Regions from separate parts of the Homo sapiens genome. Here regions 2, 3 and 4 are each linked to region 1. Evidence: fine-mapped expression QTL. A gene starts in region 1. Each other region holds a variant in brackets. All regions are shown on one strand. Distances are between the middles of the regions.

Region 1 (7,779 bases):
CGCCCCTGTGCTTTTCGGCTGTTTGTTTTTGAGGACTGCAGGAGGCTGGTGAGCTCCTGGCCTTTTGCCAGGGGAGCAGGGGGATCGGGGTTCTGAGCGGGGGGATCGGGGATCTGAGCGGGGGGATCGGGGGTCTGAGTGGGGGGATCCGGGGTCTGAGTGGGGGCATCTCCTGGGTGGGCAGTGACAGCGCTGACCCCTCCACTGCCCACCTTCTGAAGGACTGAGTGGCTGTCGCCCCTGGGGCCCCTCCACGCGGACTGGGGAGAGGTTCCCCCTGGCCAATGCCAATCAAAGACAGGAGCTTGGGGAGAGCAGATAAAGCCTCAAAGGGAGGGAGAGGTCATTTCTCACTGTGTTTACCCCACAGGCCGTGCCTACTTCTGCCTCTGGTGAGGGGAGGGACTCTCGCCGCAGAAGCAAAGCAGCCCTGACTCACTGCCTGCCACCAGTGTCTGTGGGAGGGGCCTCCCCGAGATGGGACACCTGTAGCCACCAGTTCTATGTGCAGCCAGGGAGACTGGGAGCTCAGTTCTACCCTCCTCCACCCCCCAGCCCACCTGGGTGGTGGCCAGTGGAGGGTCAGTTAGGGCCCAGGGAGTGACAGACAGGTGACCCCCTGCCCGGCACTGCTGCCCTCACCCCCACCGGGCATACTGGCATACGCGGGGTGCCCAGGCAACTACAGAAGCTTAGCTGGGAGGCTGGCGATGCTGGTGTGTGGGGAGTTGGGGGGACAGCCAGCCACCCTGGCCCCTCTAGCTGGGCAGAGGTAGGCGACTCTGCCCGGATCCTTCACCCTCTGGCTTCCTTAGCCCACCAGAAATGGAGGAAACCCCACACTTCTAAGGCTGCTCATTTCCAAGATGCCTTTCAAAGTTCCCGACCGGCCCTGACTTCCTCCCTGGACACCAGCCTCCTGCTCGGGGCTTTGGTTTGATCAGCCCTCCCCTCCAGCACTGGAACCCCCCGTGCCACGAACCTCAGCCAAACTGATTCCCAAGGGGGCTTCCCACCCGCATTCCCACGGCGCTTTGCTCAGACCCTTGGAGGGCCCTTAGTCACTCGGCTCCAGTTTTACACACCTCACCACAACACCGCCGCCACACGCAGATCCTCACAACCTTCCCCGCAGAAACATCGTCCCCACCATCCCGCAATAATAGTGCCTGTGAGCCCTTCTATGTGTCAGGGGCCATGCAAACACTTCCCACGCGTCCTCTCTCCAATGCTCTACCTTCTGAGGTCAATGCTATCACTACCCCATCACACAGATGGGAAAGCTGAGGCTAAACTAGGAACTGGCCCAACACGGCATCAGGTTCTGTTCTGACTCCCAAGTTTGGGTCAGGGCAGGCAGCTGGGAGGCACCGGCAGAGCCAGTCTGGGGGCTTCTCTGCAGAGGAAGGAACATCACCTGTTGGTGGCACAGTCTTTTGAGAAGCTGATGAAAGTGTTACTCTTCCTTTGGAGACGCAGGTGCCAGCGCACATGTTTCCATTAGGCTTAAGGAATTCAGAGATGTCCGAGGCCCAGCCACCAACACCAGAGAGGTCACAGGCAGGGGCTCCATCCCCTCAACAGGAGGGAAGAAGATAGGGGCTGAGCCTGGCAACTCTGGAGCTGCCCCCAAGCTGCCCCAACCGCCTTCCCAGCCTCGCAGGAGTAGACTGTCTCTGTGACATCTCTCCCACTCCCTACCCAGAAGGCACACCACTGGCACTGCTTTTGGGGTGAAGGAGAGGGGAGCCCCGGGGCTGGTTACTGAGGCTCACCTGTATGACGACCTTGACGGTGGCAGTGTGGATGGTGGGGGTGCACACCAGGCCGCCGGCGTGCTGGCCGTCGGCGCTGCGGTTCTGCTCGCCCATGGTGAACAGCATAGGCACCGCCAGCAGGGCCGAGGCGAGCCAGATGGCGCTGATGAACTTCTTGGTGCGGCTTCGGGACATGAGGGTCTTGGCCTTGAAGGGGTGGCAGATGGCCAGGTAGCGCTCCACACTCAGGCTGGCCACGTTGAGGGCCGTGGCGTAGGTGCAGGCGTCGCGCAGGAAGTAGTAGCCGCGGCAGCCGGCGTCGCCGAAGGCCCAGGGGTGGTGCACCCAGATGAAGTTGTACAGCTCCACGGGCATGGCCAGCAGCAGGGTGAGCAGGTCGGACAGCGCCAGGCTGCCCAGGTGGTAATGCACCGTGCTCTGCAGGCTCTGCAGCGACTTCTTCCGCGCCAGCGTGAACGCCGTCACCGTGTTGCCCACCGTGCCCACCACGAAGAGCGCCAGGTACACGGCGGTCACCAGCACCTTGGAGTAGATGTCGGTGTTCACGTCCAGCTCGCTGCTGGGTGCCGCCAGGACGCGCTCCGACGCGTTGCCCGAAGCGTTGCCGAAGCCCGGGGCCAGCAGCGCCTCCTCCAGTCCGGCCTGCGCCCGCTGGAAGGGGTCGGCGGCCGGCGTGCCCGGGGTTCCCGGCGCGGAGCTGTTGAGGCGCATGGTGGGCGCTGGAGTCCGCGGCTCTGTCCGGCGCCTCCGGGGCTGGAAGTCCGGGCAGGAGTGGGCGCGTCTCAGGCGGGGACCGATGAACGGGAGCCCAGGGGAGGGCGCGTGGCGAAGACCAGCGGGCGCGCCGTCCAGTCGGGAAGCGCCAGACCCAGACGCGCCGCCCCGGGCTCCGGGCTCCGGGCTCCGCTCTCCTCCGGACTCCCAGCTTCCGGCTCCTAGCTCCAGAACCCGTGGTTCCTCGGGCTGTCTCCCGGCTCGGCGCTTGCCACGGGTTCCAGGTGCCTCCGATCTCCAAACCGCGCGGTTCCCCAGGCCCCCGAGGACAGCGCCCAGCCCGGCTCGGGCTGCGCGGGGCGAGCTTGTGGCGCCGGGAGGAGCGCACGCACTGCTGCCCGGGCGCGCTCCCCTCCCTCGCTCAGAATCTCCTCCCTCGCGCTCTCCGCGCACCCCAGCCCCGCACACCTCCCGCCGCGCCCGCGCCCTCCCGGCTCTGCGCGTCTCCACGGAGCCGGCGGCCGCGCGGCGCGCCCAGCAGTGGGGGGTGGCGGCGGAGGAGGGAGGCAGCCCCCGCCGCCATCCCCGCCCCGCCCGGGTGCAGCCTGGCGGGTCGCCCCCTCGCGCTCCCCGGGGCAGGGCGGGCTGGGGTGAGCGCTCCAGGGAACCAGGATTCCGAGCGGGCGCGGCGGGTATCGTGCACCAGACCCTTCCTGCCACCCTCTTCCCTGTTCTCCGCAATTTCTCGCACCGGCTAGGAAGGGAACTATGCACCTCCCCCAACCCTGGGCTCGCTCAGTTGGGGTGAGGGTGTATCCGGAGGGCAGGGAGGGAGGAAGCTCCCCGCTGGCAGGGCTGGGCGGCTGCGCAGCTGGTTGGGCCGACCCCCACTCCTGGGTGTCCACAGGGTGCCAGAAGCTGGGTGCCCAGGGGGCTCTAGGACCACTGGAGATTACATTTCTGGTGATTCCTTTTAAAATCTGGCCGCAGTCATGGGCGTGCCTGGTCTGTGAATGCGTATTTCTGGGATGTGCCCAGTGGAAATGGTGGGGGCTCAGGGCATAGTTATCACCTGGGGCAGGATGGCGTGAGGCAGTACCGAGGGACACCTGCAGGGGCTGAGGAGCTGAGGGGCTGGGTCCTGCAGAGGCCGGGAGCCACAGATGGTTTCATCAAAGTCTGGGGAGGGGTGAATGAGGGAGGGCAGAAAGCAGGTGCCCAGAGCAGCACCCTCCCCACTCAGGGCCCTGCATCTGGCACCCTGGGCTGGTCTCATGACGCTATGGGATGTGATGCCCTGGGCCCCTTATTACTGCCTGGATTTGTCATCAGAAGCCACCCTGAGAGCCTGCGCCCCAGCAGGATTTGGGAGAGGCAGCCCCAGCACGCATCCTCCCAGGCCCTGCAGGCTTTGCACACTCCCTCCCTCTGAGTGTCCTCACAGGGTGCCCCGGCCCCTGGCTCGGGAGCCAGGTGAGGGCAAGATTCCTGTCCTTTCCGTGTCCCCCCCAGCACCTGGTGGCACTGGCATAGGTGGCCAGGCACAAGCTTGCCCCCCCCTCCATGTCTGGGTTGCCCAGGGGCCCCCAGGGCACTACTGTCCCTTCTCTGGGCCCTCCCCGCCCCCTCCCCTGCTCCCTCCTCCCCAGAACCCCTGGGAGAGGTTGGGTAGAGCTGCTGCCCCATGTGTGCAGGGCTGGGAGGAGCTGCTCGAGTGCAGCCCAGGGAACCAGCCTGGCCTTTGTGCACATGGCTGGCTGCACCTGCTGTGCTGGGAGCAGGAAACCTGGGCAGGCTGGGGCGGGGGTCGCAGGGTGTTGAGGGAAGCGGGAGGCTGAGGAACCCCCTCCCGGGCCCGCCCAGCTAGGAGAATTCAAGGCTTCTGAGCCGGTGGCTGGCAGCGGGACTCTGTGATTATTCGTCCGTTCTCGCCCTGCTTTGGACTTCTCTGTTCAACCGGAGCCTGATACTCTTGTCAGGGGGCTGCAGCTCACAAACATCAGAGCTTAGAAATCTTGGCATCAAAGGAAACGCCAGTGATCCCTTTGCTGGAAGCCAGTAGATAGGATTGAATGTTGGCCCTGCTACTTCACATTTGGGCGAGTGTGCTTAGCGTCTCTGTGCCTCGATTGAGTCGTCTGTAAAATGGGAATAGCGGCTGAATGAAGGGCAGGGCTGTTACTGATGGGTCTCCACGGGGAATGAACGAGGTCGAATGGGCTGTCGGGTGTGAGGTGAGGTGTTCCATCCAACTAGAATAGGCTGGAGTAGGCCAGATTTGTCCTCTGGAAGACACGATTCACCAGTTAAGTACACAGGTTTTTTTATTTTTTTATTTTTTTTATTTGTTGAGATGGAGTCTCGCTCTGTCACCCAGGCTCGAGGGCAGTGGCGCGATCTTGGCTCACTGCAAGCTCCGCCTCCCAGGTTCTCGCCATTTTCCTGCCTCAGCCTCCCGAATAGCTGGGACTACAGGCGCTAATTTTTTTGTATTTTTAGTAGAGACAGGATTTCACCATGTTAGCCAGGATGGTCTCCATCTCCTGACTTCGTGATCCACCCGCCTTGGCCTCCCAAAGTGCTGGGATTGCTGGCGTGAGCCACTGCGCCCGGCCAAGTACAGAGGTTTGGGCGGGGACCTTAGCATCCACACCATGCCAGGGAGTACAGGTGCTGGACAGTGTGAGGTCCAGGCGCTCACCACTGTCTTGGTAACACTGGGGCCTGACCACGGGCTGGGCCATCAGGCGCCTCTGTCGAGACCCCCACAAAGAGGAAGTCCACAGCAATGGCCACTGGAGTCTGTCCCTCTGCCAGCCAAAGCAGGAGGATGCAGCGATTGTGCTCTCCCTCTGCCTAAGCTCATTGTTTGGTTTTTAAACCCCTGACCTTTTGGCTAAGCTGCCCTTATTTTCAAAGATTTATCTGTGAGTTGGCCTGGGAGCTTACAAAATCATAAAAGGCAACATAGTGCAAATATTGTGTTGGAGCATTTGCTTAAAACCACATAGGAAAATGTCACTTGGAAGGCCTTGTTCTACACAAGGCAGATGGCAGGCCTCCGGTGGGGACCCCTGGCAGCCACGCCGCTCGGCCGTTCTGAGCTCTTCTGTGCACTCACAAACCGGATGGCTCAGCGGCTGGAAGCTCTTAACTCCACGTTGTTTGCCCCTTTCTCTTCTGATTTCTGCAGACAGAAGCCCTTCCTAAACAGCTGAGACTCTTTAAAGAAAGTGCCGGTGAGGTGCTTGGGAAGGGACAGGCCAGGTCCGGTCATGCCCATTGGGGATGCAGCCACACCCTTGGCCAGCCGGATGCCTTCACTGACACGTGAAGTCGGGCACGCCTTGTGGGGGGCAGGGCTCCGGGGGCGAGTGTCTCCTGCAAGTTGGAGAGCCTTGGGGACCTGCTGCCCCGATCCCAACACTCCCAATGCTGCCTGTTGAGGAGCCGGCCGGTCCCATGGGCAGCGAGGACCGAGGTCCACGGGCACGGCTGTGATTCTAGGGTGCAGCAGGCGTGCTGAGCTGGGGCAGCCAGTGTGCTGGGGACAGCCTGGCTTTCTGTGATTTCCTGAGTGGTGTGAGCGAGGCATGTCCTTATTACCAAGCAAGGTAGTCATCTGTGCCTGGGGTGACAATCACGTCCAAAGAGTCACCACACAAGAGGTCCTTGGAAGCACGCTCCCAAGGGTGGGGGTCCCTGCTTGTTTCATTGGCTAGCTTACCCTGAGTCCCTCCAACACTGCCCGGCACGGGTGGGGGTCCCTGCTTGTTTCATTGGCTAGCTTACCCTGAGTCCCTCCAACGCTCAGTTGGCGCTCACTGGGTTTGTGTTGCACTAGTGGAGCAGATGCAATGGTGAACAGGATGAGGCCATGCCAGCAGGATGTGCGAAACCCGTCACTGGTTTGCAGCAGGCTTCAGGCTTCCAAATGTAGGAGAGCCACCATCTCTCCAGCCTCCAACCTTCTCTTCCCTCAGGCCCCCAACCGCTGTTGGGTGACTCTTGCTAGCAGGAAGGCTTCTTATTAAAATTGAAAAAATTAAGTTGACAATAACACCTGAATCAGTTATCTATTGCTGCATAACGAAATGCCCCCACACTCAGTGGCTTAAAACAACAGGCATTTATTATGTCAGTGGCAGAGTAGTTGGTTTCCTATGAGGACGAAGGCGGGTGGGGCAGAAACGTGGATGTGTTAGAGGCACAGAAGATACGTAATAAACATAATCGGTAGAGCCTGGCTATAGATTTTCCCACCCACAGCATGGAAATTGCACGTGTTCCAGGACGGACGGTGTTCGAAGGAGGATCTTTAAAAACAGAGCGGCACCTGCACATGTGTACGCACAGTGAGTGTTCGCAGGCGGGCAAGGAGGGCGGAGCCGCTTTCCAGCCTCACGCTGGCTGCGCTCCAGGCATCTCTGGGGCTGTTGGCAGATTCTGGGGGCTGTGCTACAGGCTGATCAAGCCTCAGTCATCGGCATCCTTGTCCTTCACATTCCCAGGCCGCCCCTTGGACCTTGGCCAGCTTTCTGGAAACATGAGCTGTGTTCTCAGGGAAGAACCAGAAGAGGAAGCAGGCGTGGCTGCCCACAAGTGCAGCGGCTGCTGCATGGGATAAGCCCCGGGAAGGCCAGGGATGCCGAGGGCAGGTCGGGGTGGCAGGCTGGAGAGGAGGTGATTTCGAATTCCAGCTTCACCAGGCCTGGACCCCCAGTTTCCTGTGTGTGAAAAGCATGACGTGGCCCCTAGGTCACCAGGCTGCTGTGAGCCTCCTGTGATGTGCACACACTTCATTCCACACAGAGGCCAGGGCTCACCCTGGTGGCTGCAGGGCAGCTGGAGAGGCTGGGTGGGAGAAGGATGGCCTGGAGGGGGGTCACACACTCTGCCTTTGCCTGAGTGGGACACACTCGGGGCGTTGCCGTGGCTGTCTTGTGCGCTAGGCTGAGGATGGAGAGTGATTGGCCACCAGAGTTATGTGAGGTCCCTGTCAGCGTTATAGACACTCGGCAATCCAGTTTTGGGCCTCAAGTGAGCTGGGATGGCTGTTCCACATGGTGTCTGCAGGTTGCCTAAGTAAGATGGCACTGGCAGGCTGGGAGGCTCAGGGTAGGACAAACAACTCACTCTGGTTTTCCTGGGACTTTCGAGGTTTTAAAACAGCAAGTCCGGAGACCTGGGAGCTGGAGCCCTCTCAGTCTCAAGCAGTTGGGGCTGAGGGTCACCCTGGTTGTGTGCTGTGGGAGTTTGCTCTTGCAGCTTCCCTCCCTTCCCAGGC
Region 2 (7,779 bases), 37 kb before region 1:
ATCTGTAGATCACTTTGGGTAGTATGAAAATTTTAACAATATGAATTCTTGCAATGCATGAACATGAGGTATCTTTCCATTTATTTGTGCAATTTCTTTCATCATGTTATATTCAGTGTACAGGTCTTTTACTTCCTTGATTAAATTTACTCTTTTTGATGCTATTGTAAATGGGATTTTTTTTTTTTTTTTTTTTGAGACAGATTCTCATTCTTGTTGCCCAGGCTGGAGTGCAATGGCACAATTTTGGCTCACTGCAACCTCCGCCTCTCAGGTTCAAGCAATTCTCCTGCCTCAGCCTCCCAAGTAGCTGGGATTATAGGCACACACCACCACGCCCAGCTAATTTTGTATTTTTAGTAGATACTGGGCTTTGCCATGTTGGCCAGGCTGGTTTCAAACCCCTGACCTCAGGTGATCCACCCGCCTCGGGCTCCCAAACTGCTGGGATTACAGGTGTCAGCCACTGCGCCTGGCCCTCTTGATTTCTTTTTGGGATAATTCATTGCTAGTGTATAGAAACACAACTTATTTTCATATGCCAATTTTGTGTCCTGCAACTTTATTGAATGTGTTTATTAGTGCTAACAGTTTTTTTTTGTTTTTGTTTTTGTTTTTGTGGAGTCTTTAGGGTTTTCTATACATAAGTTCATGTCATCTGCAGAGACAATTTTACTTCTTCCTTTCTGATGTGAATGCCTTTTACTGCTTTATCTTGCTTAATGGCTCTGGCTAGGCCTTCCAGGACCATGTTGAGTAGTGCATCCTTGCTTTGCCTGACCTTAGAGAAAAAGCTTTCTACTTCTTATCACTGAGTGTGGTGTTAGCTGTGGGTCTGTCATACGTGGCCTTTACACTGAGTGTGGTGTTAGCTGTGGGACTGTCATACGTGGCCTTTACACTGAGTGTGGTGTTAGCTGTGGGTCTGTCATCATACGTGGCCTTTACACTGAGTGTGGTGTTAGCTGTGGGTCTGTCATACGTGGCCTTTACACTGAGTGTGGTGTTAGCTGTGGGTCTGTCATACGTGGCCTTTACACTGAGTGTGGTGTTAGCTGTGGGTCTGTCATACGTGGCCTTTACACTGAGTGTGGTGTTAGCTGTGGGTCTGTCATACGTGGCCTTTATTGTGTAGCATGCATTCAACACCCAGTTTGTTGAGTGTTTTTATCATGAAAGGATGCTGAGTTTTGTCAAATGCTTTTTCTGTATCAAATGAGATGATCAAATGGCTCTTGTCCTTCCTTCTGTTCATGTGGTGGATCACATTTACTGATTCATATGTGCTGAACTGTGTTTCCATCCCAGGGATAAATCCCACCTGCTCATGGTGGATGAGCCTTTCAACATGCTGTTGAATGAAGTTTGCCAGTATTTTGTTGAAGATTTTTGCCTCTTGGTTCTTTTCTCATAGCGTCCTTCTCTGGCTTTGGTATCAGGGTAATGCTGACCTTGTAAGATGAGTTAGAAAGTGTTCCTTCCTCTTCACATTTTCGGAATTGTATAAGGACTGGTGTTAATTCTTCTTTAAATGTTTGTAGCATCCATCGGCGAAGCAACCTGGCCCTGCCCTGGGGTTTTCTTTTTTGGGAGGTTTTTGGTAACTGATTCAATCTCCTTCTTTGTTATTGGTCCTTTCAGATTTTCCATTTCTCGCGATTGACTCTAGGAAGCTTGTGAGTTTCTAGGAATGTATCCATTTTTTCCAGGCTGTCCAGCTGGTTTGTATAAAATTGTTCACAGTTTATTATGATCCTTTTGATTTCTGTGGCATCTTGTAAAGTCTCCTCTTTCATATCTGATTTTAGCTATGTCTTCTCTCTTTTTTCTTGGTTAGTCTAGCTTCCCTCCACCTTTCTCCCTTCCTCCCTCCCACAAACATCACTGCCTTGGAGAAGCCATAGGAGCCCCTGCCGTCAGAGGTCTTGGATCCTGGGGAGGAGAGACCACTGAAAGAACCACCTGCAGTGACTTCAGGGCCAATAAGAGCTACAGACACAGCGATGCTGGCGGCAGCCTGGCTGCAGTAGTGCTGGGGGTTCCGGGAAGGCCTCTGCTTGGAGGTGACTTCTCATCTCTGACCTGATGGCACCCACAAGCCTACAGGGACCCTAAGCTCTCCTGGCAGACGGTCCAGCAAACTCACAGACCTGAGAACTCAGGGGGTGAGAACTGAACAGGAAGCAGACGGCCAGGCTGGGGTAGTGTGGGGGCCTGGTGGTGACCCGCCGGGCGGCAGCCTTGACCTTCCCCCTGGCTGACCCCTTCTCTGACCTCTGCTAGTGTGGCCCCCGTCCCTGCCCAGGCTGAGCGTCTACCTCTCTAGGCGTCTCAGCCCTGGCCACATAGGGTGGCCTTGAGGGACTTTGTCCAATGGACTCAAGCAGCTTGAAGGCCATGCAGGGCCGGCCAGAGGATGCCTCAGCGCCACTGATGCCACAGCACCCTGGCGCCTTTCGATTTGTCTCTAAAGAGAGCAGGGAGTCACCTGGCCCAGCCCCATGAATATTCTGGGGGACGCGTGGTGGCTGGGACTCCCAGACCGCCTGGCTTTGCAATTCCAAGCAGCAGGGGAGGGTCATGGCCAACAGCAGGGAAGCCCTGGGGACGGCGAGGCTGTTCAGCAGCTGTAGAGAAGGCCATCCAGTCCCAGCGAGGTCCACGCCAAGCTGGATTTGGAGGCGAGGCAGAATATGTGTCTCTGTCTGTCTTTGTATCTTTCTCCTGTGATGTCTCTGTGTTTTTCTCTGTGTTTTTCTGTGTCTCTGTCTCCTTGTATGTTTTCCTTCCTGTGTCTGTCTCTGTTGTGTCTCTCTCTGTATATCTGTGTGTTTTCCTCTGTGTCTCTGTCTTTCACTGTTTTCCTGTGTCTGTCTCTGTCTGTGTGTCTCTGTTGTTCCTGTGTCTCTATCTCTGTATCTCTGTGTCTCTGTTCTCCTGTGTCTCTCTCTGTCTGTTTTCCTGAGTCTGTGTCTCTATCTCTATATCTCTGTGTCTCTGTCTCTATCTCTGTCTCTGTTTTCTTGTGTCTCTGTATCTCTGTCTCTGTGTCTCCCTGTGTCTGTTTTCCTCTATGTGTCTGTTTCTCTGTCTCTGTGTCTCTCTCCATGTCTCTCTGTGTCTCTGCTTTCCTCTCTGTGTCTCTCTCTCTGTCTTTGTGTTGCTGTCTGTCTGGGTCTCCCTCTGAGTCTGGTGTGTGTACCAACATCCTCAGGTGGCAGGAACTGGCTGGGCCACCCTCCCTGGAGCCGGCTGGGTAGCTGGGCTCTGGGCCATGGGCCTCAGTGGCTGGGTCTGAGGTTTTAGGGGTGGATGTTCCAGAGCAGAAGGTCATGGTGGGAGACAGGGGTGTCTGCTGTGACAGCCGTGGTGGTCTGGAGGTGGGGCTGCCTCCATGGGAATCTCATTCGTGCTTCTGGCAGTATCCTCTGCTGTGTGCACCCCTCAGCTGCTACCCCTTGCCTCCTAGCCCTGTCTGGGTCTGGGAATGGCGTTTGAGTGGTTGGTAGGGCCTCAAGCCTCTCAGAAGCAGCCGAATGCCTGGGGTTTGGTGCCAGAAGTGGGGGCCTGGCTTGTTCCCTGGCCAGCTGTGAGCTCGGCAGGTCCTCCTGGGCCTCAGGCTCATTTCTCTCTTTTTTTTTTGTGAGACTGAGCTTTGCTCTTGTTGCCCAGGCTGGAGTGCAGTGGCGCGATTTCTGCTTATCACAACCTCCGTCTCCCAGGTTCAAGTGATTCTCCTGCCTCAGCCTTCCTGAGTAGCTGGGATTACAGGCATGTGCCACCATGCCTGGCTAATTTTGTATTTTTTTTTTTTTTTGAGACGGAGTCTTGTTCTGTCACCCAGGCTGGAGTGCAGTGGTGTGATCTCAGCTCATTGCAAGCTCCACCTCCCGGGTTCACGCCATTCTCCTGCCTCAGTCTCCCCAGTAGCTGGGACTACAGGTGCACGCCGCCATGCCTGGCTAATTTTTTTGTATTTTTAGTAGAGACAGGGTTTCACCATGTTAGCCAGGATGGTCTCGATCTCCTGACCTCATGACCCGCCCACCTCGGCCTCCCAAAGTGCTGGGATTACAAACACGAGCCACTGCGTCCAGCCCCTCAGCCTCATTTCTAAAAGAGCGAGCCTAGAGGTGCTGCCTCAGTTCCTGGAGCACTGACTGTGCTCCCTTGGGTGTGGGAAAGGAAGCAAATTGGGGGGCACAGGACTGCGGCTTGGGAGGCTGGGATGGGACACGCTGGGGCGACGGCTGGTGGGGCTGGACCTATGGGAGGGACAGCCTGGCCTCTGCCCCCTCGCATGTGTAATTTTGATGGGGAGGACGGAGGTGGAGTGAAAGGTTAGATAATGAAACAGCAGGTGTGTTAGGGGGATCTGGACCGGGGCGCAGCCTCTGGGTGGTTGGTCTGAGCTTGGCCGTGGAGACCAGGTGGGGAGCGGGAGGGGTGCACACGGTATGCCTGCCCACAGGTGAGGGCACAGCCAGACAGCAGGAGGGTGCCCCCGACACAGGCTCCAGACAGCCGGCCTCAGCCCCTCGACCTCAGGCAGGGCGTTCTCACCT[C/T]GCTCTTCGAGAGCAATTGCTTGTTTTGTATTCTGCCTTTCTCTCTAATTCATCCCATTGTGTTTAGATCAAGAGACAGCCCCAGACTGGCACACTGCTTCCCGGCTCCGCAGCCAGCCTGTGCTGAGTGGGAAGGTGCAAAACCCTTTTGCTTTGCAGAACCCAGAGGCTTTGTAAGATGGCTGCAGAGGCTGCGGGGCGGGTGGGAGGGGAGGCTCCTGTCCACACCCTCCCAAGGGGGTGACCGCTGGGGTGGCCTTGCTGGGCTGGCAGGGGATCGCCCTCTCCCTGAGCAGATGACCAGCCCCAGCAGGGCCCAGGCTCACGGACGGTCTTTTCTAACCTCCCAGACAGACTCCAGGTGGAGAGGCCCCCACTAGACCCAGCAAACACTGACTTGGGAGCAACCCTCAGGGTTCTCATGACCCCGAACTGCCTTCCCCACCACAGCTGAGGCCAGGAACGATGGCAGAGTTAATTCAGAAACCCTGTGTGCCAGGGCCGTCAGCACAGGCTTGTTCGAAACCCCAATGATTGGTGAACAACTCAAAGGCTCACCCTTTGGGGCTGGTCGCCATGGCATGACGCACCCACACCACGGGGCACTCAGCTGACTGGACCGGGGGCAGGGAGCAATGAGGCAATGGGTGGGCCTGAGATGGCCGGGATACGTGTCCAGCAGGGGCGGCTCCGTGCTCCCCTCCCAGCCTGACTCTCTGGATTGGAGCCTACCGAGCTGATCTGGGGAGAGGGCAGGGTAGCTGGGAGGGTCTCAGGTGTGTCCCCCAAAAGCTAGACTCCCACAGTGAACTACCTACACAAACAAAGCTAAACTCAGAGAACGTTCCACTTGCCTGTGCTGTGGGTATGTCCCGTGACAGGTGCCCTGGGATGAACAGGAACCCCACGGCCACACCAGAGCCACTGTGACCACCTCACAGCCCTGGAACTGGGGAAACACTGCGGGGAGAGGGATGGGAACCCTGGTGGGTCTCTGCTCCCCATGCCAGAGGTGGGGTGCCAGGGCCAAGAGAGCAAAGGGGTCTTTAAGGTGACACAGCCCAGCGCTTTCCAGGAGTGAGGTCATCCAGGAGGCTCTGACCAGTGGCTGTCCTCAGAGGAGACACCATGGAGGGACCCAGGGAAAAGCAGCGGCCACCCACAGGACACCTGAGACCTAGGGCCCTGTGTAAACAGGTGTCTGGGGAGCAGAGGACGGAAGGCATAAAGAACTGCCAGTGTGACCTTGTTCTAGAAGGTTCTGGTAGTGGCCAGCTTGGGATACTGTGCTGTCCCTCAGTCCCCAGTCTCTTTCCTCGGTCCTCCCTCCCAGGCATCTAAGCAGTACCAGGCCCGGCTCGAGATGCTGCTGGGATCTGGAATGCAAAGCTGTGGGACTTGCTGCCCAGTGGGGACACGCCTGACTCATGGTGGATGGGGGCCTGGAAAGCCGTACATTGCCGCGTGGTCAGCAGTGACCACAGACCTGGCCTGAGGAGGAGCCCACACACCACCTCCTGGAACGCCAGCATTTCTGAGTCCCTGAGGGCAGGACTGGAGAGAGAACAGGCGTGTGACCTGGAGGGGCCATGTCAGCCACCTCGGTGTCTGTGGGACCACTGTGGGGAGGGGATGAAATGGACGGCGCAGCTTCTGGCTAGTACTTGGCCCCTCACGACCCCGTCCACGCCTCCATCAGAGAGCTCTGATGTGCAGGTTTTGGCTCAGTATTAAAAATAACGGTTTGAATTCCTCTAACCTTCACTTTCTAGCTGACATCGACTGTCCTGGGGTCTACACATACTCTGTGTGCACCACCTCAGGCACACAGGTCTCATCTGTGAGGCAGAGGCTCCTGTCAGGCTCCTTTTGTAGATAAAGAAACCCAGGCACAGTTGTGAACCCAGGGGCCTGATCCCACAGCCTGAGCTCCCACTTCCTCCATCAGGGGCCATCCTATGAGCAGATCCTCATCCCCACTGGTGAAGCTTTGTGGCATGTACCTCACCTGAGCAGATGCCTTCTGTGGGCCATTGCCAGGTTTTGAGAGCATCTAGTCCAAGGCTGTGGCTCCTTGGCGACCTCTCAGGGACTGAGCCTGCCCCACAGCCTCTGTCCATGGCTCCTCCACTCTGTTCCCTGCACTTTTCTTCTGGTTTGGAATTTCTGGGAAAGGCTCAAGAGAATGCCAGAGCCCCAGGGAGCCTCAGGGGTTCAGTACCATGGACAATGCCCAGGCATGCTCGAAGGGGCGCACAGACATGGGGTGGGAGGAACATGGTGTGGGGCAGGGGGCCGGTGTAGGGACCCCCAAGCCAGCTGGGGGCAAGGACCCCATCAGGAGAACTCTGGCCACCTGCAGACCCGTCCTCTGAGCGGGGCTGGTGAGTCACCCGTCACCTCTGCAAGAGGTTTGCCCTCCTCTCCTCTTCCAGGCAGCAGGGAGCCCTGAGTGTGGGAGTTGGAATCTTTTCCCTCCTGATTGCTGGAGCTATAGAGGCCATTGTCTGAGTGGGGACTTGGCAGAACAGAAGCCCCTGGAAGCCACATCCTGTCTGTGCCCGGCTGAGCTGCGGGACTGGCAGCAGCCTGGCTGCCGGGAGACCCCTGACTTAGCAGCCTGGCTGCCGGGAGACCCCTGACTTAGCCCAGAGGGCCTTAGTCAGATTAGGGAAAGAGCCTTCCTGACACCCTTGCCTCCTCTACCTGTGCTGGGCAGGTGCCCTCCAGGACAGGAGGAGGGGAGGCCCCTGGCCCTCAGCCCCGGGAACGGCCCTCCCCTCGCTGAGCCTGGCCGGGGCCCAGAACCCCAGTGTGCCCCATTAGTCACTCTGAGGGCAGTGCTGGGGTGGCGAGTTGCTTTTCAGCTGCTCCAGCACTTCTCAAGAGTAAATCACAGGCAGCGGCAGGTGACAGCCAGCGGTTGAGGCTGCGGGCTGCAGGTCTCTGCCATGTTTTCAAATATCTGCCAGCTTCAAGCCCATGAGAATGCTCACACCCACAAGGCATCTGCTGGGAAGCACGACAGGGCTTTAAAAACTCTTGACAAGCCCAGGAGGCTGCGCAGAGCAGTGAGTGAGGGGTGGAATTCTGGCCCCGGTCACGGCCCCCACCTCTCTGGGGATCTGAGCGGGAAGGATCCCTGGTAGGGCCTCGCACTCCTGTTTCTCAGATGAGGAAACCGTGGCCAGGTGGGGGCTCCCCTGGGCTCGAG
Region 3 (7,779 bases), 27 kb before region 1:
CATCAGCCTGTCCTTCCACCCTGCAGGAACGCAGCGGCAGCTGAGGCCTTTTTAGGAAACGAGGCCTCCCCATGGCTCGGGCTATTACTGCTGGCAGCTGGGAGGCTGACCCCACAGCTGCAGGCTTCTCCCCAAGCCGGGCTGCAGACCTGAGCAGGGAGTAGTTTGCCTGACTCTTCTTGGAATGTTCCAGAACTCAGTGGCTGCACCTGCCTTGTCTGTCCCTGTCCCTGGGTTCATCCAGGCCGGCCATCTAGCACCCTCCGTCACCCTCTGCGTGCACCTGGGTTCATCCAGGCCGGCCATCTAGCACCCTCCATCACCCTCTGCGTGCACTGCGTGCCCAGGCCCGCCTCGTGGAGCCTTCAAAAGCCCTGACGGTGCACCTGATGCATCCAAGGCACCTGGCATAGGCAGAGGAGGGGGAGGGGGGCAGACGTGGGCAGATGGGCACTGCAGGGAAAGGGATGCGGCTGTTGCGGAGGACCAGGGGGCATGCAGCGTGGTCTGGGGGAGATAAGGGGCCATTTTCCAGAGGAGGGAGCTTTACGCAGAGGCTGCAGGGCTGAAGGGCATCTGTGGGCCAGGAGGAAGGAGGTAAGAGTGTGTGAGGTGGTGCAGGGGTGTGGGGGGTGGGGAGGACCGGGGGCAGGGGTCAGGTCATCAATCCTGGACTTGGAGCAGCTCAGAAGTGGGAAGCAGCAGCAGGAGGTAAAGCAGGAGGCCGCTGCAGCCACAACTGCATTCTGGGTTTGCTCTCAGGGGTGGGGCCAGGGAGGGACCCAGGTGTGGCCTGCATCCGGGGCTGGACCTGGCGATGGGCAGATGTGGGGACGAGAGCAGGTGGGAAGGAAGGAGGATCGCAGCGCCCAGGCAGGGACGGCATCTCTCTCCAGGCTCTCCTCAGGCCGAGTGGGGCAAGGCCACAGAGGGCTCGTTTAAGTGCAGGCGTGGATGCTGCATCCCATGCTCGGCCCCTCCCTGCAAGTAGGACAAGTGGCCCCACAGAGGTCACGTGCCTGCCGCTGTGCCTGATGAGCAGGGGTGCAGCCGTGAGTCAAGGGGCTCTCCGACTGCACGGAGGGAGCCATTTCACCTCTGGACACGCATCCTAGGGTGGGGTGGGTGAATGCTTTCTGTGAAGGTCCAGAGAGTGAGTCACTGTGGCTTCGTGGGCCGGAGGATCTCAACTTTTGAGCAGAACCACTCACTGTGGCCGCTGTGGCCAACACAGCCATAGCAGTACGTACATGAGCAGGTGGGGCTGAGTGCTGATGAAACTTTACAACTCCAGGTGGGTCTGGGTTGGCCCCGTCCTCACGAACACGGGGCTGATCATCGCACCATCCATCCGGGAAAGACTGGGCCCAGGCCAAGTGTGTGAGTCCATTTTCGCACTGCTCTAAAGAACTGCCGAGACTGTGTAGTTTATAAAGGAAAGAGGTTGAATTGACTCACAGTTCTGCAGGGCTGGGGGAGCCTCAGGAGACCTACAATCATGGTGGAGGGAGAAGCAGGCACTTTCTTCACTGGGCAGCAGGACGGTGTGAGTGACAGCAGGGCAAACGCCAGACGCTTCTAAAACCATCAGATCTCATGAGATTCACTCTCACAAGAACTGCCTGGGGGAACCGCCCCCACGATCCAGTCACCTCCCCCTGGTCCTGCCCTTGACACGGGGCATTATGGGGATTACAATTCCCATGAGATTTTGGGTGGGGACACAGCCAAACACATCACGAAGTAACTCCTACGCCAGGTGTGTGCATGTGGCCTGGGCCCTGGTCACAGATGGAAAATGAAGCAGTAAAACAGAGGAGGGTCTCAGCTTGCGGGTCCTATGCTGAGGGTCCAGGTTGTTCCCTGGGAGCCACAGGCCAGGGCCTCGGAGTCCTCGGAGTCCTCGCTGGGAAAGGGGCTCTGCTGGAGGTTTGGGCCCGCCCTGCATAGCTGGGAGCCCTCTCTTTGCCCCACCCACAGGTGGAAGCCACTTCCCTCCTCTCCCAAACCCCCTCTCCTGGTTCCCCAGTTGGAGTGATCCACAGAGGAGATTCTGCGTCTAAACTGGGACTCAGGGAAGCTTCTGGAACTGTGAGAGGGGTTTGGTTCCTGCCTTTCTGAAGACAAAGTGGCGCCTGTCTTTCAGGGCATTGCGCCTGAGGGTACAGAGAGTGGGGCTCTGCCTCTGGGGTCCCAGGGTCTCCCCAGCTGCCAAGGGCAGCAGCCCCAGACCCAGACAGGGAAAGGAGCCTGGCTTCCCTTCCCGCCCTGCTCCATGGGGCAAGTGCAGAGAATCCCCAGCCACGATGCCCCTGCCCGAGGCACCCCAGGCTCCAGGCAGATCTCAGGCCTCCTAACCCAGGCCCTGCCCCGAAGGGACAAGTTTCAGAACAAACTGTCCACTGGGCTAATACCCCGGCTTTTGTGATCACCACATACTGATTTCTATCGAGGGATGAAAATTGACAAATTTAAACGGGAATTACTGGGCTCGGAAATTTGTTCTTTGTAATGAAGGGAACAGTTGAATACAGAATCTGAATTTGGGATTCAGACCAGACCCCCTCAGAGAAAGTGCTGAACCCGTGAGGAATTGGAGGGTAAGGGGAACTGTTCTTGGCAACTCCTGTCCCATTTCCTTTTGGGATGGGGGCTGCTCCCGCCCCCTGCACAGCCCCACAGGTCACAGCGGGGAAGACCCTGTCCCTGGTCCCCGGTCGCAGTGTGTGCCCTTTCCTACTTCCCTGCACGCCAGCCTCAGGAGGTGAGCTCACCTCGCCGTGTCGGGGGGACTCCCGTGTTACCCACCCCCCAAGCCAGGGAGCGGCCTCCAGGGGAGCATGGGGGAGGCTGAGGCCACCTTGCGGGGAGGCTGTTCCTGGGGCTGGGACGCCTCTCTCTGAATCATCCCCGCCCACAGAAGGAATTCATCTCACTCCTAATAATGTGTTTGTCACAAAGACATAATCGGCTCATCTGTGAGACTCCAGCGTGCACAGCGGTGCTGGCTCTTTGTTGTATAGTGGCAGTCTCACTGCAAGGCCGTTGGGCTTTGAGGAAAGGGAAGGAGGCACCCACTCTCTCCCCGGGGGGCCCCTGCCTTCCCTCGCAGTCCCACCTCTTCCGCCTGCCTCCATCACAGCAATTCAAATAACTATGAATGGGGCTACCTGGGAGCCCCACATCCCTGGCTGTGGGAACAGGCTGACCTTCCAGCACAGTGTCCTCCTGGTGCCAGGCACTGCCCCTCTGCCAAGGACCCTGCAGGCCTGGTAGGTCCCCAAGGGCACCCGTGGCCTCCCACCCCCTAACCATGGTTTTGGCACTGAGCTGGCGGCCAGGCGGGGCAGAGGAGGGAGCTGAGCGTCTTTCTTTAGTGTGCACGTCACCGCACACGATGGCACCCCACTGGTTGCTGCCCATCATGCAGGGCTGCCTCCACATGGGGCCTCAGCACCGGCTGGTGCCTGGCACCCCGCACGCGGCACCCCACCCCAAGGGGAGGCTGTACAGGCTCTGGACACACCCCAAAGCCACCCGAGGGCTGCTTCTCATCAGCAGGGAGGGGCTCGGGCAGCACAGTCCCGTGGAAATAGGATGCAGGCCACGTGAGGCTTAAATGTACCAGTAGCTATGTTACAAAAGTGGAAGGAAACAGCTATGATAATTTTAATAC[G/T]ATATCTTATTTAACTTAATGTATTCAAAATATCATATCAACTTGCAACGGTATTAGTGAGCTATTGTATACCGCCTTTCCGCATTAACTCTAAAACCCGGTGCGGATTTCAGGCTGAAGCTCATCTTCACTCAGACCAGCCATGTCTCAATGCCCAGTGGCCACGTGTGGCCCAGGGCTGCCACATTAGACAGGGCTGCCTGCAGCTTTTATGGGAAGCCACCTGGGCCAGGCACACCAGCGCCTGCTCCTCGCTCCCCAGGGGTGGTCTTGGCCCCAGCTCTGCTCAGCAGAGAACCCAGAGCCTCCAGGTCAGCCCCGGACACAGGGCGTGGGCATTGCACAAGGTCAAGAATGAGTTACTCATTTTCAACCACCTAAAAAGATGGCCCCAAAATGAAGCCTGGGTAAGACAAGGGGCCACGTCCTTCCAGGAGCAGAGCTCGGCTTCCTCTGCATCGGCCACAAAGCCCCTACTGCACCGAAGCCCAAGAGCTGAGCCAAGATTTTTTTTTTTTTTTGCGGGGAAGGGGGTCACACTCCAGAGAAGGCTCCAGAAAAGCTCTCATCCCAGACCTCGCTGCCTCCGCCCGCCCCTCACGCCCCATCTCTTGCCCGTCCCCCACCAGGGCTGAAGAGTGAACTCAGTAGTAACCCACGTGGCTGAGCCAGAGAAGGAGGCTGCGCAGGGGACAAGGCGGTCGCTTCCAGGATGAGAAGCGCAGACTCGAGGTCGGGCAAACCTGCCGCCGGCCCCAGCCGTGTGCATCTGAGCAAGTGGCTTCCCCCAGCCTCAGGCTCCTCATCTGTGAAACGAAACCCCCTCCAAGCTGGGCTGGCTCAGCACCCAAAACCATCATTTAAAATGCGACCCTGCCTGGGGGCTGTTCGAATCCTCTATTGAGATAAAGTAGCAATCATACATTCATCAGTCACTACTCCCTGCTGGAGGCCTCTTCCCCAGCACAGAGCCTTCCCTCTCTCAGCTGAGACCCCAGGCAAGGGTAGGGAGAAGAGGGTGCTGTCTCCCTCCCCCTCCTCCCCTCTCTCTCCTCTGTTCCTCCCTTTCTCTCTGTGTCTCTCTCTCCTTCTCTCCCTCTCTTTGTGTTTCTCCCTCTGTTTCTCTCTCTGCCTTTCCCTCTCTCCTCTCTTTCCTTTTCTCTCTCCCTCTCTCTTCTCTATCTCCCTCTTTTTCTCCATGTGTGTATCTCTCCTCCCCATCCCCAGAAGCCAGCCCACATGGCTCACCCTGCATTGCTAGGTGAGACAGGCCTGAGCCCTAAGCCAGGAGTCAGCCACAGCCGAGCTTTCCAGAACTTTCTAGAACCTTCCCTTTCCAAAGTGGAAATCTGGACTAGAAGGCACGATTCCCACTGGGGAGCTGCCAGTGGCTCCCTGCCCAAGGGAAACACAACTGTCCCGAGAGATGCTCATTTGCTCCCGGAAAGGAGCGCAGCAAGCTTCAACCAAGTGCTTCAGGAGGGAACCAAGAGCTTCATTCTTCCCTAATTGGTGCTAATTTTCAGCCTTCCCAGAGCTGTGCCTGGGAGGTGCAGAGGTGCCTCCAGGGTGGCCCTGCGGGGACCGGGATGCACATTTCTCTGTTAGGCTGGTAATCAGCTTGCATTTTCTCTGACAGATCTTCTTCCGAAAGAACGTCTACACACTGCCGATGACATTTACTTCACTCAGAATTTGCAAGTCCAATGCCGACATGAATATGCACGGCACTGCTGCTTGGATACGTGGCCTCAGGGCCACGCCTGCGGGTGATGTGACAAGTCCACAGACTCCCGTGGCGGCTTCTCACCGAGAAACATTCCAGCACCTGGAGGCTGCCAGCTGGGAACCCCCTTTAGGCGACGTCAGCGCCGTTGGTTCTCAGCCTGAGCCGCCCCCTGTGCCCGCTGTGGTCCTCCAGGCCCAGGCAGGGAGAGCCCGAGGAAAAGCAAGCGGAGGGTCAGATGGGGAACCAGCGTGCCTGGAGCCACGCAGGGACACGGACTTAGAATTCTACCTTGCATTTAAGGAACAGATGATAGATACTCTCTACAGTCTCTTCCAGGAAATAGAAGCAGAGGAACACTTTATAACTCACTCTACGAGGCCGGCATTACCCCAATAACAAAACCGAGGATGTTACAAGAAAGGAAAACGCAGACCAGGATGTCTCATGAACACAGATGCAAAAACCCTCAACAAAACAGCAGCAAATCCAGCATCACATACTAAGAATTATACACCACAGGATTTCCCAACCAGCACCACATACTAAGAATTACACAAATAGCAGCGAATCTCATGCAGCGCTACATGGTAAGAATTAGACAGCACAGGATTTATTCCAGGCATGCGAGGCTGCTCCAGGGTTCGGAAACAGATTATCGAAATCCATCATGGCAACAGGAACTATTTTCCAAAACCCAACACCCATCTGTGAGAAAAACCTTTCACAAGCCAGGAATACAAGGGAACTCCCTCAGCTTGGTAGAGAACATCTACTAAAAACCTACAGCCCATGTCATACTCAATGGTGACAAACCTGAAGCTTTTCTTCCTAAGATAGGGAAGGAGGCAGGGAGGCCCCCTATCCTCACTCCTATTTAACGTCATACTGTGAGTTCACAGGATGGACACTACCGATTTCAACACTTGCTATAAAGCCCCAGTTATCGGTACAGTGTAATTTTTTTTTTTTTTTTGAAATGGAGTCTCACTCTGTCGCCCAGGCTGGAGTATGGTGACACAATCTTGGCTCACTGCAGCCTCTGCCTCCTGGGTTCAAGTGATTCTCCTGCCTCAGCCTCTTGAGTACTTGGGATTTCAGGCACCTGCCACCATACCTGGCTAATTTTTGTATTTTTAGTAGAGATGGGGGTTTCACTATATTGGCCAGACTGGCCTCGAACTCCTGACCTCAAGTGATCCACCCGCCTCGGCCTCCCAAAGTGCTGGGATTACAGGCGTGAGCCACCACACCCAGCCAGTAAAGTGTAATCGTGGCTAAAGAACAGACAAATATTCCAATGGAACAGAAAAGAGAGCCCAGAAGTGGACGGACACATGCATGGGCAAATGATCTTTGAGAAAGAAGCAAAAGTTATTGATGTTGAAAAGACTGTCTTTCAACAGATGGTGCTGGAACAACTGACATCCACATGTAGAAAAAAATGGGTCTTATACCTTTCAGGATAATTAACTCAAAAGGCCTCACAGACCTTAATATAAAATGCAAGATAATACAATTTATAGATAATAACACATTTTATTTAATATAAAATACAAGATAATAAAATTTCTAGGTAATAAAATCTAGGTATCTTGGGTATAAAATCTAGGTATCTTGGGTTTGGCAATGAGTTTTTAGATGCAACATCAAAAGCATAATCCACAAAAAAAATGAATAAGCTGGACTTCATTAAAATTAAGAAATTACACGGCTGGGCGTGGTGGCTCACACTTGTAATCCCAGCACTTTTGGAGGCCAAGGCGGGTGGATCACCTGAGGTCAGGAGTTCAAGACCAGCCTGACCAACATGGAGAAACCCCATCTCTACTAAAAATACAAAATTAGCTGGGCATGGTGGTGCACGCCTGTAATCCCAGCTACTCGGGAGGCTGAGGCAGGAGAATCACTTGAACCCGGGAGGCGGAGGTTGTGGTGAGCCGAGATTGTGCCATTACACTCCAGCCTGGGCAACAAGAGCGAAACTCCGTCTCAAAAACAAAAAAGAAAAAACAAAAACAAAACAAAACAAAAACGCTCTAAAAATGACACTGTTAAACGAATGAGAAGACAAGATACAGCCTAGGAAAAAATATTTGCAAAATACTTGATAAAGGAGTGTTATCCAAAATATATAAAGAACTTTTACAACTCAACAATAAGGAAACAAACATGAAGAAATGGGCAAAACATCTGAATAGACACCTCATCAAAGAAGACGTAGCAATGGAAAAATAAGCACAAGAAAAATGCTCCACATCATATGTCATTAGAGAAATGTCGATTAAAACAATGAGATCAAATGAGAATGGCTACAAAAACCAAAACCAAGATCCTGACGACACCAAACGCTGGCAAGGCTGCGGAGCAACAGAAC
Region 4 (7,779 bases), 63 kb before region 1:
CTTGGGTCTTCTGTTCACACAGACCCCTGTCGTGGCTTCCACAGTCCCCTCAGCCCCTGCCTGGAAGGAGCACGCAGGGCCCTCCGCCTGCCCCAGTGGAGGGAGCACAGAGCCCAAGCAGCCCCCCGGAACTTTCCCCAGCTCGGCCTCATGGTCTGGTGGTTTCTTCTCCAGGTAGAGAGCAGTGAGGAAGGGGACTCAGCCTCCATGCCTCCCGCCAGCCCAGCTGCGCCCGAATCACCTCCCTCCTGAAAGGATGTCAGCCTCTGCTTGGACACCGTGGAGACAGGGCCCTCCTTGTGCTTCAGAAGCATCAACGTGTCAGAAAATCATCTTCACGCCAAGTCTGGAAAAAATGGCTTTGAGGTTGTGCACACAAAGGAAGGAGGGAGAGCCCCAGGTGTCGCGGAGGACCATGCGGCTGACAGAGCCAGCAGGGCGGTGGCGTGTGAGCCGTGCTCTGGATATATAAGGATCTGACGCTGCTGGCAATGTCTGAGCTCTATGCTCGCCCATCTGTCGGCTGCTATCATCACCGGGTGGGATTAGCGGAGATCCACTCTTTCATATTTAAATCTTCACAAGAGAATGAATCACTTTTATAATAAAAGAAAAAGACCGTCCATGTTGTTAATGTGCACACAGCAAGTTGGAAGGCCGGGGAGGGCAGCGGGTGGGGACGCTGACCCAGGCGCCCCCCTGCTGCCTGGAACAGCCCCAGGCCTGCTCCACTGTCCCCTCGGGGTTCCCTGTCGAAGAGGCCAAAGAGTGGAGGGGCTGGTGCCTAGAGGGTGTGGAGCTGCAGGTGCACAGTACAGCTGGCACCTGGCAGAGGTGGTTCATTATCAAGCAAAGGATGAACAAGGCACTTGGAGCCCCTTCACAACTGGAACCTCCACTGCAGGCACAAGGCTGGGCTGGACTGGGGTCTCCTCCTCTCCATGACAGCCTTGGGCAACCTGGAGCCCGCCACTGCCCCTCCCCAGGTGCTGTCCCCTTGAAGCTTCTCCCAACGGTTTAGTATTGTAGAGTTGGCACATCTCACGTGAACAAGAACAGCCATCACTGAAACGAATGCTCAGAGCGGACCGGCGTTTTTTCCCAGCCACCCTGGGGTGAGCATGGCTCACGTTGCACACCAGGAAGCCCAGGAGCGGGGAATTGAACCAGTTCCATCCAGTCCCTGGCAAGGGACCACCCTGTGTCCGAAGGCCACGTTCATTTTTCAGATTGCAGGAAATGGCTCAGCCTGAAGTTCAAGTTTTCCTCTGAGCTCCTGTTGATTAATGTGGCAAAGAGAGCATGCTGTGGAATATGCTGGCAGAAATGTCAGGATTGCTAAAGCGTTTCACTGCAAATGCTCAGGCTGGTGGGGAGGTGCCTTGGCACAATTCTGCAGAGGGTATTTGGCAATAGCAACAAAATCACAAAGGCACAAACCCTGTGACCCAGAAACACCAATTTCACGGTAGGAGCTGCTGCCGCAGGGGTTTGCCCAGAGCACAGGGAAAGATGTGCTCACTGTACTCGCTGGGACAAGCAAGAGATTGGAAAGAGCTCAGTGTCGTCATTCAGGGTGTCTCCTGTGTCTCCTGATCGCTATAAGGGGTTCCAGGCTGGTCCCCGGGGGAGGAGCTCCTGATCAGACGCAGGCCCTGCCCCCTCCCCAGCACAGAGCTGGTGAAGGAAGTGGACATTCATTCATTCAGGATGTTCTGAGTATTTCAGCACCACCAGGCCCTGGGAAATCAAGGTCTCAGCAGATGACGGTGGCAGTTTGATTTTTGGCTGAATTGTCCTCTACAGCAGTCACTGGGGGTTGCGTTTTTCTCACACTGCCCAGTCATGCAGCACACGGAAGCCATCCATATGCCATGGGAAAATGCTTTGTCTCCTGCCTGGGCGCCCCCCGAGCCAGTGAGTACAGTCCTGCCTAGTGGCAAGGTGAGTGTCCTGTTCCCAAGTCATGAAAATGCTCTTCACTGGGGCGGGTCTGCCGAGTTGGGAAGGGCACTTACGGTTTAAACCGAGAGACTCTCCCTGCATTTGAAATGAGGACATAGAGTTCTTTTTCTCTTTTCTTTTCTTTTGTTTTTTTGAGACGGAGTCTTGCTCTGTCGCCCAGGCTGGAGTGCAGTGGTGTGGGGTGATGGGGCAAATGGGGCAGGGCGGCCAGGTGGGGCCAGGCGGGCATCTCCCGAGGATGATCCTGGAGGTCAGCTGCCCGGTGTGGGTGGCCATGACCTTGGTAGCCTGTGACCTTGGTGGCTGTGAGCTTGGACGAGAACATTTTCTTCTGCCAGTGCAATGCCTAGAGAGGCAGGCCACTGAGGGCTGGGGCAGTGAACCCCGGGGACATCGCGTTGGGGAGTCCTGCCGTGATAGAGGGCCCCTGGGCACCACAGTGCAGCGTGTACTCCACCGTGGCTGCTGGATGGCCACCCATGGGCAGTGGAGCTGGGGCAGGGATGGCATTCCAGGTCTACAAAGTAGGGAGAGTGACGGCCCAAAGGAGCGAGGGTCCAGGCGAGCCGCACACGGAGGAGCGAGGGTCCGGGCAGGCCGCACATGGGTCGGAGGCTGCAGAGCCCATGCTGACGGCGCACACCATGGGCTCGGCCTGCTGTCCCTAGAAAGTGTGGGGCAGAAAGAACGGATGCACCTGTGTGCTCCTTGCTGGAAGTGGCAGGGGGCTCTTCCCATGCTGGATCTCCGGACACTCCCCTTGGCGCTCTGCCTGGTGGTCCGCCGCTGCACACGGGACACGGCAGGCTCCGTCCCCTCGGCGGCCACTCTGTCCCCTTTTAAGGCATGTCAGAAACAAAGCCCTGGACGGCTGTGGCTGGGTTGGGCGTTCGCCCCAGTCCCTTTAAGCCCTCTGGGAAGGGTGGGAAGTTTCCAAAACTTCCCGTTATCCACACCAAGCTCCTTGACCAGAGTCCAGTAATGGGACGCTGGCAGTGCCCGGATGCCCCGATACAGGCAGGAGAGGCACCGTACTGGGTTCATCCAAGGCCAGCTTAGGTCCTGGGAGCTAGGACGACCAGAGAGGAGAAAGGCAAGGCAGGGACATGGCACTGAGACAGAAGAGACCACCCCCAGAACAGAGACCCCCGAGAGGGCAGAGACCCCGAGACAGCAGAGACCCCCAGAGGGCAGCAATCCCAAGAGAGCAGAGACCCGGAGAGGGCAGAGACCCCAGGAGGGCAGAGACTCCTCAGAGGGCAGAGAACTCTGAGGCCAGTGACCCCCAAAAGAGCAGAGACCCCGTGAGAGGCCAGAGACCCCAGAGAGGTCAGGGGCCCCCGAGAGAGAGGGCAGAGACCCCGTTCCTTGTTTTTCCTTGTTTGCCACCTTCAATGTCATTCTTGCCCTCCCTCCCC[C/T]GCCGAGTGGGGGACTGTGGTGGCCTTAGCTACCCTCACGTGGCTTTAGGACCCTCAGAGCATAACTAAGCCCCCGAAGGCTCTGGTCTTCCAACAACATGATCTTTAGGAGGGCAAAGCTCCTGCGGCTCCTGTGGGCTGGCATTGTGACTGCCCTGGGAGGTGGCAGGTGTGACTCGCTGTCCCTGGGGAGGCGGGACCCCCCTGGGCACCTCTGCAGGTGCGAATCGGGGGTGGTCTTTCTCTGCGTGGCTGCATGGGGTGAGAGCCTCTGTCCCAGGGCAGGTGTGGGGACAGGCCCTGGTGGAGCGTGCGGGCCGGCTGGAGCTGGGGTGCCCGGAACTGTGGTTTGTGCAGGCCCAGGAGCCTCTGTCCTCGTGTGATCTTTGTGCACTCAGGACTTCGAGTCACACCTGGATTTGGTGAAGGGCTCCGGTTTTAGTTCCAGCTCTGGTAGCCACACCTCTGGGATCACGGGCAGGTCACACTCCCTTTCCCAGCCTGTTTCCCCATCTGTACGACGTGCATCCTCCTGTCGCGAGGATGTGTAGGTGCAAGAGACGTCCACCTCACCTGGCCCTGTCTGCAGGCATGAGGCTCTGTGAGGCGGGGCCCTCCCTGGGGACTCTGTGGGGATGAGGCCCTCACCTGGGGACTCTGTGAGGGGGGACCCTCCCTGGGGACTGTGTGAGGATGGGGATGAGGCCCTCACCTGGGGGCTCTGTGGGGCTGTGCTGTCAGCTGGGTGAGGGGAGTCCTGGCCATGGTAACAACAGGTCCAGGAGCTTGCCCCTTTGCCCAGAACATTCCTCCCATCTGCCCCCTCCAGGCCTCAGCTTCCACGCCTTTCCCTCCAGGGGACCTCCTCTTCCTTTCCTAGTTCCCCCACCTCCCTCCATATTCACCCGTGCGCATGCCGGTGAGCGGGCGTCCAGGCTGGAGTGCCAGCGTCTGGGTCTGGGTCCCGGTCCTCAGGCTGGAGTGCCGGCATTTGGGTCCCAGTCCTCAGGCTGGAGTGCCGGTGTCTGGATCCCGGTCCTCAGGCTGGCGTGCCAGTGCCTGGGTCCCGGTCCTCATGCTCCCTACACCATGGCTGTCTCCTGATGTTTTTGGCTGACTCTCCCTGGAAGCAGAATGAGGCCAGGGTTGATGTGGAAGCTGTTCATTTCTTTGGGAGGTGACCCAGGAAGACAGGGAGTAGGGAAGGGGATGCACCTGTAAGGGCTGATGGCTTAGTGCCCCTGCTGAGCACCCTCCAGTGACTCCCCTGGAGCGGGGAGGAGGCTGAGTATTTATCCAACTCCTGCCTGTGGGGGTAACAAACGAGGCCGCTCTGGGGGTGCGACTGCCTGATAGCCGGCCTGCCCCAGCCCAGGCAGAGAGCCCTGGGCAGAGCCCCCTATTGCCGCCAGTGTCCTTTCCTAGCGGTCATTCTCACTGCTGTACTTGCAGCGTGGTGGCCCAGTCACAGGCCCTCCCTACCCCCAGGGTTCTGCCCCATCCTGACAGGGCTGGCCAAGAGCCTGGCACTGGGGCCCGAGATGAGACCTCAGTGCCACATAGTGACTGGGGTGGGGGACCGACCAGAGTGGGTGGGAGGCAGGTGCTTTCTGAAGTGTGCCTGGCCTAGCCTTTGTCCAGCGAGCTCTAGACACAGCTGCTGACCCTGAGGGCTCCGGCACCTGCCCTTTTGCCCAGCTGCAGACTGGCTCTCGGTGGCCATGGGCCTTGAACCAGGTCAGATGATGGGGGTTGAGCTGACAGGGCCTTGCTCCAGGCCCTGGGTAATTGGCTGGGGTCTGGGCCTGGCTGGGGGTGTCCCCAGTGGCTCTGCTAGTCACCTGGTTAGTTGGCCTGGCAGGATGAGAAGCGGCTGGTCTCACAGACCCAAGGAACGAGCCCTTCCTGGTGAGATGGGAGGCCCTATGCAGGCTGAATGTGCCCGGGTGTGAGCACTTGTGTGTGTGCACTCATGTTCACATGCCATGCCTGTGTGTGCGTGCAGGCATGTGTATATGCATTTGCCTGTGTGTGTGTGAGTTGAGTGTAAATGTGTGCATGTGGGTGCATGTATGTGCACAAGTGTGCCTGTGTGTACACATGTGTGTCTGTGTGTATATGCATGTGCTGGCACATGTACATGGGTGTGTGCCCATGGGTTCATGTATGTGCACAAGTGTGCCTGTGTGTACACGTGTGTCTGTGTGTGTATGCATGCGCTGGCACATGTGCATGCTGTGTGCATGTGCATGGGGTGCCTGTGTATACGTGCACGTGTGCTGGGGAGGGCCCACTCACCACGTGCTGCGGGCGCCCTGCGGGTGCCAGCCCCTCCTCGTCTGCCTTGCTCTCCTGCCCTGCCTTGGCTCCCTGCCTTCCCCTCACCGGTTCTCTCTCTGCTTGGCGTCATTCCTTTCATAAATTCAGCCTGGCCATGGTTTCCATGGTGCTCTGATAAAAACTGGAATTCCAGTCATAATTGCAGGGAGTTGGGGAGCTGGGAGAGAGGGTGGAGGCAGGAGGGAACATTTTCTATACAGGAAGCTCAGGTCTCAATGGCTGTGGCTGGTTTTTCTTCCTTCAGAGGTATTTAGAGTGTATAGAATTCTCTCTCAAGAGCTCCCCTGTTGCCTCGCGATGGCGACGGGCCGGCACTGTCCTCCTGGGTGGGCCTCCTAGCCGATGGGCTTCTGTCTCTGTGCTGGAACAGGGCGGAGCTCGGCAGACCTGCTGGGTGGGGAGGGGCTTGACCCGGGCTCTGGCTTCAGGGGACTGGAGTTCAGGGGTGCCTGGGGCAGGCTGCCCGGCCAGTGTCCCCAGATCTCCCGCTCCATGACTGAGCTGGAATTCCATGGTTGTATTTCCATTCCTATGATGTTGTCGTCAATGTCAGTGTTCCTCCGGTTGGGGTGCAGTGATCTCCTATGCCCTGGAGTGAACGGGGGTTGTGAGAATTCCTTGCAGGGGCTGGGGCAGCAGAGCCCCACACCCTCCGTTCTGTGCCAGCCAGGGGGGTGCCGAGTCAGCCAGGTCCCGAGGAGCACTGAGCAGATGAATGAATGAATGGATGGATGGATGGATGGATGGATGGGAAGGTATAGGGAGGTGGCTCTCCCACCCCAGGGCGCATCTGACTCTCCTGGATAAGTCGTTAACATGCAGATTCCCAGGCCACCCTACCTTCTGATCGCCTGGGGCTCAGCTGGGGCCTGGGAAACTGGTCTGGAACAGGCTCCCTGGTGGTTCTGACGTGAGCCCGCCCATCTGCCTGCCCAGGAGACACAGGGAACAGGGGCAGCAGGAGCACTGGAGGCCTGTGGTTGGGAAAGGGGCTTTCTTCTTTGTCCCCCAGAGGACAGCGTTTGGCTGTCAACAAGGCCCTGCCTCTGCCCTAGTGGCTTGGGGCTGGGCAGGGGGGTTTGGGGGACCCCTCTGCTATGTGAGATGGAGGCAGAGGCAGGGAGGTGGGAAGGGGGATGAGGCAGGGACACACCCGGCGCAGAAGGCACTTCTGTGGGGCTGTCAGCCCTCAGGGGGGTCCTGCCATGGGGGTGTCTTCTCGTCCTCCTGTGGGGGTGTCCTCCCGTGGGGATGGGAGGGAGGGCCTCATCAGCTCAGAAGCAGATGGTGGCTGGGTTCTTCCTTCCTTCCTTCCTTCCTTCCTTCCTTCCTTCCTTCCTTCCTTCCTTCAACCTTCTTTCTTTCTTTCTTTCTTTCTTTCTTTCTTTCTTTCTTTCTTTCTTTCTTTCTTTCTTCTTTCTCTCTCTCTCTCTTTCTTTCTTTCTTTCTTTCTTTTCTTTTTCTTTCTTTCTCTTTCTCCTTCCTTCCTTCCTTCCCTCCCTCCCTCTCTTTTTCTCTTTCTCTCTCTCTTTCTCCTTCCTTCCTTCTCTCTCTCTCTCTTTTCTTCTTTTCTTTCTTCTTTCTTCTCTTTCTTTCTTTCTCTTTCTTCTTTTCTTTCTTTCTTCTCTATCTCTCTTTCTCTCTGTCTTTGACATGGAGTTCTTGCTCTTGTCACCCAGGCTAGAGGGCAGTGGTGCAACCTCAGCTCACTGCAGCCTACGCCTCCTGGGTTCAAGTGATTCTCCTGCCTCAGCCTCCCAAGTAGCTGGGATTACAGGTGCCCACCACCACGCTCAGCTATTTTGTATTTTTAGTAGAGACGGGGTTTCACCATGTTGGCCAGGCTGGTCTCAAACTCCTGACCTCAAGTGATCCGCCCGCTTTGGCCTCCCAAAGTGCTGGGATTACAGGCGTGAGCCACCGCGCCCAGCCTTTTTCAGTTCTTTAAACGCTGGCGTGTGTGTGGCTGTGGATCCTACGGGGTGTTTATGAAGGACGCTTGGTGTGTCCTTGGTCCCCACGCATCTTACTGCTGCTCCCACCTGCCCACCCGGGA

The links. PIP is the estimated chance that this variant, and not a neighbour inherited with it, causes the effect.
Region 2: its variant is fine-mapped to the expression of NTSR1 in whole blood (TOPMed, PIP above 0.99).
Region 3: its variant is fine-mapped to the expression of NTSR1 in whole blood (TOPMed, PIP above 0.99).
Region 4: its variant is fine-mapped to the expression of NTSR1 in whole blood (TOPMed, PIP 0.96).

The regions. Positions count from the first base shown.
Region 1 is chr20:62,703,918-62,711,696 of GRCh38, reverse strand. NTSR1 (neurotensin receptor 1) reads right to left here and starts at 2,861. Exons shown (of 4, transcript NM_002531.3): 1 at 1,776-2,861. The coding sequence starts at 2,489. RefSeq lists enhancers at 1,570-2,114, 2,115-2,661, 2,871-3,383, 3,384-3,897.
Region 2 is chr20:62,740,593-62,748,371 of GRCh38, reverse strand. The region is part of intron 1 of NTSR1 (neurotensin receptor 1); the gene reads right to left. Among named protein-coding and RNA genes, the nearest start is that of NTSR1-AS1, 9.1 kb to the right of the region's middle. RefSeq lists an enhancer at 7,413-7,779. The variant C/T (reference allele first, on the strand shown) is at 4,566.
Region 3 is chr20:62,730,719-62,738,497 of GRCh38, reverse strand. All of the region lies in intron 1 of NTSR1 (neurotensin receptor 1), which reads right to left. It overlaps NTSR1-AS1 (NTSR1 antisense RNA 1), which reads left to right and starts at 3,139. Exons shown (of 2, transcript NR_199009.1): 1 at 3,139-3,272; 2 at 5,316-7,779. RefSeq lists an enhancer at 2,870-3,715. The variant G/T (reference allele first, on the strand shown) is at 3,677.
Region 4 is chr20:62,766,965-62,774,743 of GRCh38, reverse strand. It overlaps LINC00659 (long intergenic non-protein coding RNA 659), which reads left to right. Exons shown (of 3, transcript NR_046225.1): 3 at 175-623. Among named protein-coding and RNA genes, the nearest start is that of LINC00659, 6.0 kb to the left of the region's middle. RefSeq lists an enhancer at 5,080-5,811. The variant C/T (reference allele first, on the strand shown) is at 3,384.